2 linked regions of the Homo sapiens genome follow. The protein of the gene in region 2 interacts with the protein of the main gene of each other region in a pairwise test. Each region holds a gene or a part of one and is shown on either strand. Other genes may lie near its edges. The genes, in order: ZMYND8 and ZBTB7A.

Region 1 (3,810 bases), on a different chromosome or scaffold from region 2:
AAACTGAAAGCAACCTAAATGCCCATTAGTAGAGGAATGCTTTAAATAAACTATGAAATACTATGCAGCAGTCCAAAAGAACAAGGCAGGGCTGTATGTGCTGATGTGGATGGACCTCCAAAACATGCTGATGGGTGGGGGAAAAAAGCAAGTATGGTACCATTTTTATGTTTTAAAAAAGAAAAAAAGGGGGGAAAAAGGACTAATTTTATGGCATCATATACATGATGCGCACATATATACATACAGATATGTATATATACATATACATGCATACATGCATAGAAAAGCTTTTACAACGGTTGATACTGGCCACTGTGGAAGGGAAGAGAATGAAATGGAAGGTAAACGGGATAACAGACTTTTATGTAAAACTTTCTGCCCCCTTTTTAAGGAGAATATATGCATGTATCATTTATAAAATGAACAAAAAAAACTTTTTGAAAGTAAAAAAGCAAGTAGCAAAACAATTTTTAAAAATAATGCCAAATGGAATGTGCAAGGCCTTCAAGATACAATGGCCCGGAAACAAACGAGAACTAAAAAAAAAAAATAAAAGAGCAATGACTTTCTCCTGTCGATGTGGCAAAATGGGAGCGGGCGCCACGGAGAACAGAAGGGGAGGCTCGGTACCTTTCACAGCCTGTCTGGTCTGATATCTCGTCCCCTGGGAAGACTGAGGCTGCTGCTGCTGGTTTTGCTGCTGCTGCTGCTGCTGCTGACGCTGCATCTTCTGCATGTGCCACTTTTGGGAGGACGTTTGAAACTTACTTGATGAGTTCCACACGACCCGCTGCACGGCCGGGGCAGTCTCCTTCGGTAAAAGCGGCCTCTGCTTTTTCACTGGGCTTCCTGTGGCGGCGGGGGCCGGGGCCGTGACGGTGACCGTGGAGGACGTGCTGGTGGTGGCTGTGGCGCCAGCCGCGGAAGTTTGGGCGGAAGAGCGGGTGAGCACCGGTGTTTCCGGGGGAGAATGGCTGCCCACCGTCGTGGATGGTGGAGTTTTACCTACAACTAGCCAATGCATGAAGAAAAAACAAACAAAAACCGGATTTCACTCAGGTTCACCTGCACGGTCTTGACGCCACCAAGTTCTGGGTAAAACCTATGAAAGCCAGGAATGCCGAACCAATTCGACGTGCCAAGCACACCGCGCTGGAGGAGTACATTCTCACCTAACGCTGAGGCCACTTCTGCGGCGTCTTCCATCTCCGCGAGCAGCGGCCTCCTTTACTGAGCGCCGGCCCACATCTGAGATACAAGTCAAGACCTCTAGGGGAGAATGAGGCAAACAAGACCCGGCTCCTGCGCTCAAGCTCCCCTACACCTAGTGGACAATGCGGTGGGCGAACAGATTCAATGTTCACGCCCTTTTCGCAAAGTTAAAATCTAGTCGGCACCTTGAGAAGGGCCCAGCGGAAGTCAATCCAGACAGGAAGAGCAATTCTTTGGCTAGGGAACGTAGAAAGCAATACCTCCAAAGAGCCAGATGGCCTCCCAATGGCCAAAGCAGTAACACTCAGTCACCCAGAAAGAAAAGTATTCTTTTCATCTCTTCTGATTCCCTCCAGGACAAAGTTTGAAGGCGGTACTGATAGCCAGGACAATACCAGGAAAACAAATTCTGCCCCAAGGCCAGAACCTTCCCCCAACGCAATGGTACTGATCTAGGATTGAGTAGCATTGCTTTGGTTTTGATTGGATTTATTCCTATCACCAGCTTTTATGTATACTGTGTGCTACTGTTCTTATTGGGTGGTGTTCAAGTCTAAAATGAGTTTATACTTGCAGATGCTTTTTTCAGGGGAAATTTTTTTACTAAAAAAATGAGGCCAAGCACGGTGGCTCACGCCTGTAATCCCAGCACTTCGGGAGGCTGAGGCAGGCGGATCACTTGAGGTCAGGATTTTGAGACCAGCCTGACCAACATGGGGAAACCCCGTCTCTATTAAAAATACAAAAAAATTAGCCAGACGTGGTGGGAAACTGAGGCAGGAGAATTCCTTGAACCCAGGAGGCGGAAGTTGCAGTGAGCCGAGATCGCGCCACTGCACTCCGGTCTGTGAGAAAGAGTGAGTGAGACTCCGTCTCAAAAAATATTACTAATAGGCCGGGCGCAGTGGCTCACGCCTGTAATCCCAACACTTTAGGAGGCTGAGGTGGGCGGATCACTTGTGGTCAGGAGTTCAAGAGCAGCCTGGCCAACATAGTGAAACCCCGTCTCTACCGAAAATACAAAAATAGCCGGGTGCGGTGGCAGGCGCCTGTAGTCCCAGCTACTCAAGAGGCTGAGGCAGAAGAATCGCTTGAACCCGGGACGTGGAGGTTGCAGGGAGCCGAGACCATGCCATTGCACTCCAGCCTGGGTGACAGGGTGAGACTCCGTCTCAAAATAATAATAATAATAAATGAAAAGTAAATAAAATGAGTTTATTTTATTTATTTATTGAGATGGATTCTCACTCTGTCACCCAGGGTGGAGTGCAGTGGCACAAACTTGGCTCACTGCAACCTCCGCCCTCTGAGTTCAAGCGATTCTCCTGCCTCAGCCTCCCGACTACGTGGGATTACAGGCGCCTGCCACCGCACCCAGCTAATTTTTTTTATTTTCAGCAGAGACGGGGTTTCGCCATCTTGCCCAGGCTGGTCTTGAACTCCTGACCTCATGATCCATCCGCCTTGGCCTCCTAAAGTGCTGGAATTACAGGCGTGAGCCAACGTGCCCGGCCTATTTTATTTTATGTTTTAAAGAGATAGAGTTTTGCTATATCACCCCGGCTGGGCTCAAGCAAGCCACTTCAGCCTCCCGAATAGCTGGGACTACACGGGACGTGCTACTGTGTCCCGCTTTAAATGAGCTTAATTTTATTTTTAAAGAATGAGATTCTTGGCCGGGTGCAGTGGCTCACGCCTGTAATCCCAGCACTTTGGGAGGCCGAGGCGGGCAGATCACGAAGTCAGGAGTTCGAAACCAGTCTGGCCAACATGGTGAAACCCCATCTCTACTAAAGATACAAAAAATTAGCCGGGCATGGTGGTGTGTGCCTATAATCCCAGCTACTTGGGAGGCTGAGGCAGGAGAATCGCTTGAACCCATGAGGCAGAGGTTGCAGTGAGCCGAAATCGCCCCATTGCACTCCAGCCTGGGTGACAGGGCGAGACTCCGTCTCAAAAAAAAAAAAAAAAAAAAGATTCTTTAAATAAAAAAAGTCAAAAATTATACAAGCAGGACTTGAGAACGGGAAAGACAATGAATGTGAATGACTCAAGTTTGAAAAACGCTGCCATATGGAGTATGTCATCTTGGAGGAGCTGGGCTGGTGGGGAATAAAGGGTAGGATTTCAACAGGCGGAAAGTGAGAATCTGGAGGGAACAGCATCAGCCAAGATATGTCTAGGAATACAGAGCATTTGAGTAAGTGAGGGCAGGCAGGGAGGAGGGGCTGGAAGGGAGGTTAGAGCCAGAAGCACTGAGCAGCACGTAGAGGCGATGACCACACGGGAGCTCATTTGTAAAGGTGGCTCAGTTATGGATGCACAGGCCTCAGCCCCCGGTAAGGTGAGCCTATGCCCCAGAGAGGATATCTGGGGAACACACACCACACCCAGGTACAAGCCAGCACCCCGATCTTGGACTATGCTCCCTGACATCAAACTCCTTTAAATAAGGATTATGTCTGCCTCTTTTTCTTTTCTTTTTTTTTTTTTTTTGAGATGGAGTCTTGCTCTGTCACCCAGGCTGGAGTGCAGTGGCGCGATCTCGGCTCACTGCAAGCTCCGCCTCCTGGGTTCACACCATTCTCCTGCCTT
Region 2 (3,810 bases):
GTGGGGCAGTTGGTCACCCTAGTAACCAAGTCCCCACCCCACGACACCCAGGACTGCCCACTCTCCCCTCACTTCAGCGTCACTCCCCTATCTGGGCTCCACCCTGACGTGCAAAGGTGCAAAGCACAAGCTACGCTGGGGCCTTTGCATGTGCTGCTCCCGCAGTCCGGGGTACTTTCTTTTTTCCTCCTGGATCTTCACAGTCAAATTTGGGCTCAAATGTCACCTCCTTCCCCAGCCCTGTCTCCATCCTCCTGTCATCACCACCTGACTCTTCTATTGTTTTTTTTTCTGAGACCGAGTCTCGCTCTATCTTCCAGGCTTGAGCGCAGTGGTGTGGTCTCCGCTCACTGCAACTTCCGTCTCCCGGGTTCAAGCAATTCTTCTGCCTCAGCCTCCCAAGTAGCTGGGATTACAGGCCCTCTGCCACCACACCTGGCTCATTTTTGTATTTTTAGTAGAGACGGGGTTTCACCATGTTGGCCGGGCTGGTCTCGGACTCCTGACCTCAGGTGATCCACCCGCCTCGGCCTCCCCAAACGCTGGGATTACAGGCGTGCGCCACCACACCTGGCTGATTTTTGTATTTTTAATGGAGACAGGGTTTTCACCATGTTGGCTGGGCTGGTCTTGAACTCCTGACCTCAAGTGATCCGCCTGCCTCGGCCTCCCAAAGTGCTGGGATTACAGGCGTGAGCCACCGCGCCCGGCCGGTCTCTCTTGTTTCTGTTGATTTCCTTGTTTCTCCTCTGTCTCCCTGATTGGATTGTGAGCCCCGAGAAGGCAGGGGTTGGGTGTGACTTGAGGGCCCCTCCCTGCCTGTCTCGCCCCATGGGGGCAGCGTGGACCCAGCTTAGCCTGGAGCCTCTAGCCTACAAAGCCGGTCACCATATCAGTGGGGTGCCTGTGGCCTAGGTGGCTCCTGAACCCTTGGAATGTGGCCACTCTGAACTGATGTGCGCTGGAAGTGCAAAAGGTACCCCAGCTTTTGAAGACTTGATATGCAAAAGGTGATGTAAAATGGCTCAATGAGGATCGTGCACATTGACTACACATGGAAATGCATCTACTGGGTTAGGTAAAATGTTTCAAGTCACTTTCACCAACTCTCTTTGACTTTTTTTGAACGGGGCTGTCAGAAAATGTAAAAATATGTAAGTGGCTTGCTGGCCGGGCATGGTGGCTCACACCTGTAACCCCAGCGCTTTGGGAGGCTAAGGCGGGCAGATCACCTGAGGTCAGGAGTTCGAGACCAGCCTGGCCAACGTGGTGAAACCCCGTCTCTACTAAAAATACAAAAATTAGCCGGCATGGTGGTGGGCGCCTATAATCCCAGCTACTTGGGAAGCTGAGGCAGGAGAATCGCTTGAACCTGGGAGGTGGAGGTTGCAGTGAGCTGAGATCGTGCCACTGCACTCCAGCCTGGGCGACAGAGCAAGACTCGTCTCAAAAAAAAAAAAAAAAAAAAAAAAAAAAGTAGGTGTCTTGCCTATTCCCATTGAGTGATGCCAATCTATAGTAATAAAGTGTACTCCTTCCTGGGATCCGGAGGGCAGGAGGGAGCCCTGGGTCTCAAGAGCCCTGGCTAGAACCTGACCTACTCCTTGCTGCTGCCTGTTGTGCCCCACATCTGAGCCACCTCGGGTTTCTTCCTTCTCACACTCAATAGACTGAAGACTTCTTTAGTGTGGGGACTGGCAAACTCCTACTCATCCCTCAAAGCCCTACCTTGAATGCCCCTCTACCTTTCCTAATTCCCAAAGACCTGGCTCCCCTCTGGGTTCCTCCAGCCCTAAGTCCCTCCCTCTGGCACCAGCTACAGAGCTGGTGTCCCTAACTTTAACCCCTCCTTGGCTCTGTTGCCCTGAGGGTCAAGGCCTGGCCCTTGGCAACCAGACCCCTACCTTATCTCTAGCCTTGCTGCCCCACTGAAGCCAACAGAACGTGGTAACTTGCTAACAGAACCCTGGCCTAACCAGGTCTGTTACCAGCCTCCAGGCCTCTGGTTTACTGATCACCTTCTGCAAAGCCCACGGCAAGGTCTCCGGGCTGCCTTGCCCAGATCTGGCACAGGGCCGGGGTCACAGAGGGGATGGCAGCCACTAGGTTTTTCTAGAACCGTGCAGAGACTCCCCAGATGAGCCTGGGAGGCCCAGAGAGAGGAAGGGACTTGCCTGGAGCTGCACAGCAGGCCAGAGGGCCACGCAGAGGCGGGGTGGGGGCGGAGGTATCCCTAGTTTCATCACCCCGAGCCCCAGCCTGGGTAATTATAGCCCCGGCCACCACAGGCCCCACTTACTCAACGCCCTGCTGTGACTCAGAGGGGCCTCGGGCTCCCAGGCTTTTGGAGGGTGGAGGTGCTGGTGTCCTGGGGAGGGGGGACCAGAGCACGGGGTGGGGGAAAAGAGGAAGCAGGTGGGTCTAAATTGGGGTGGGAGGAAGAGGTCTCCACAATTGTCCCTCTCTAAGCCTCAGTTTCTCTGACTGAGGGGATCAGCCCCGGGTCGGGTGGGATAGCCAGCAGTGCCCGAGTCAGAATGAAACCGGGCCTGTGGCCTGCGGCCAGGGAGGCAGGGTGGGGGTCACCACCTTCGCTCAGCCTGGTCCCCTCTGCAGACCCCAGTTCTCTGCACCCCACCAAGCTGCTCTTCCTGAGCTCAGAGACGAACCCACAGTGACCCCTGCCTGGAGGAAGAGGAGCCCCCCAAGACCTCCAGTACCCCAACCTCACCAAGGAGGGACAAACCACCAGCTACACTGCCTGCCTCCCAAAGTGCCCTTTGCCCCCTGCCTGGCACTCCTGGGCGCCGGAGTCCAGGCCGCACCTTCCTCTCCTGGCCTGCTGGGGAGGGGGCCGGGGTGCTGGGGAGGGGTCAGTCCCAGTTCCTGTCCCCACGGGGTGGGGTTGGGAAGCTGGGACAATGGCCTCTTTCTTCAGCCTCGGTGGGCGTGGCTGGGGGAACCCCAGGGCGGGCGGGGGGCAGGGGGTGGTGCTGAGTCACCCAGCCTGGCCAGGTCCCTGCCTGCCAGCCCCCTGCCCCCACCGCTACAGCCCGCCCCGGATCTACGAGGCCCAGCCAGCCACCTCTGGACTCCTGAGACCGAATTGCAAACTGCCCGGGCCTGGCCTTGAACTCCTGCTGTTTAGGGACCAAGTCCTGTGGCTCCCAGGGGGGCACAGTGATCTCTCAAGCTGAGCTGGCCTCAGGGCCTCTGCACTGGCTGTTCCCTCTGCCTGGAACGCCCTTTCCCACAGCTGCTCCTCCCCTCCTTCAGGTTCCGGCAAGGCCTGTCCCCGGCGCCTAGAACAGGCCTGGCACCAGCAGACGCTTCATAAATGTTGGCTGATTGAAGCAAATGACCCAGGCTCACGGGAAACTCAGAAGCCGCTCCACGGCCTGGGCTGTCCCTCCCTAAGCCTGAGGGCCTGTCACCCTCTCCCAAAGCAGAAAAAGAAAAAAATCCAAAAGTGCAGAAGAGAAGAACCAGCCCTCCAGGAAGGAAGAACGACTGTGCCTTCCCGCCCACCTCCCGCAGCTCAACCCTGTCCGGCACGCTTTGCATATGATGTGGCTGTCATCTTATGTCTGGCCTGTGCTGTCACCCACCGGGATGTCCACCCACAAGGGCAGGGCCTGGTCTAGGCTGTTCTTAACAGCCACGTGGGTCAGGGAAGCGTTCGTTGGCTTTGGGCCCAAGAGGTGGGGTGTGTCTGTTTGCGTGTGTGTGCATATATGTGTGTCTGTGGGTGCATGTTTGCATGCATGTGCATGTATGTGTGCGCATGTACGTGTCTGTGTGCATGTGCCT

Evidence for each region.
Region 1: the proteins of ZBTB7A (region 2) and ZMYND8 interact in a two-hybrid assay, tested with the Homo sapiens proteins (one large-scale study listed by BioGRID and IntAct).

What each region holds. Positions count from the first base shown.
Region 1 is NC_000020.11:47,238,125-47,241,934, forward strand, and holds part of ZMYND8 (MYND-type zinc finger-containing chromatin reader ZMYND8), read right to left. Parts: intron 1,015-3,810; coding exon 634-1,014; intron 1-633. UniProt on the Homo sapiens protein: Chromatin reader that recognizes dual histone modifications such as histone H3.1 dimethylated at 'Lys-36' and histone H4 acetylated at 'Lys-16' (H3.1K36me2-H4K16ac) and histone H3 methylated at 'Lys-4' and histone H4 acetylated at 'Lys-14' (H3K4me1-H3K14ac).
Region 2 is NC_000019.10:4,049,649-4,053,458, forward strand, and holds part of ZBTB7A (zinc finger and BTB domain-containing protein 7A), read right to left. Parts: intron 1-3,810. UniProt on the Homo sapiens protein: Transcription factor that represses the transcription of a wide range of genes involved in cell proliferation and differentiation.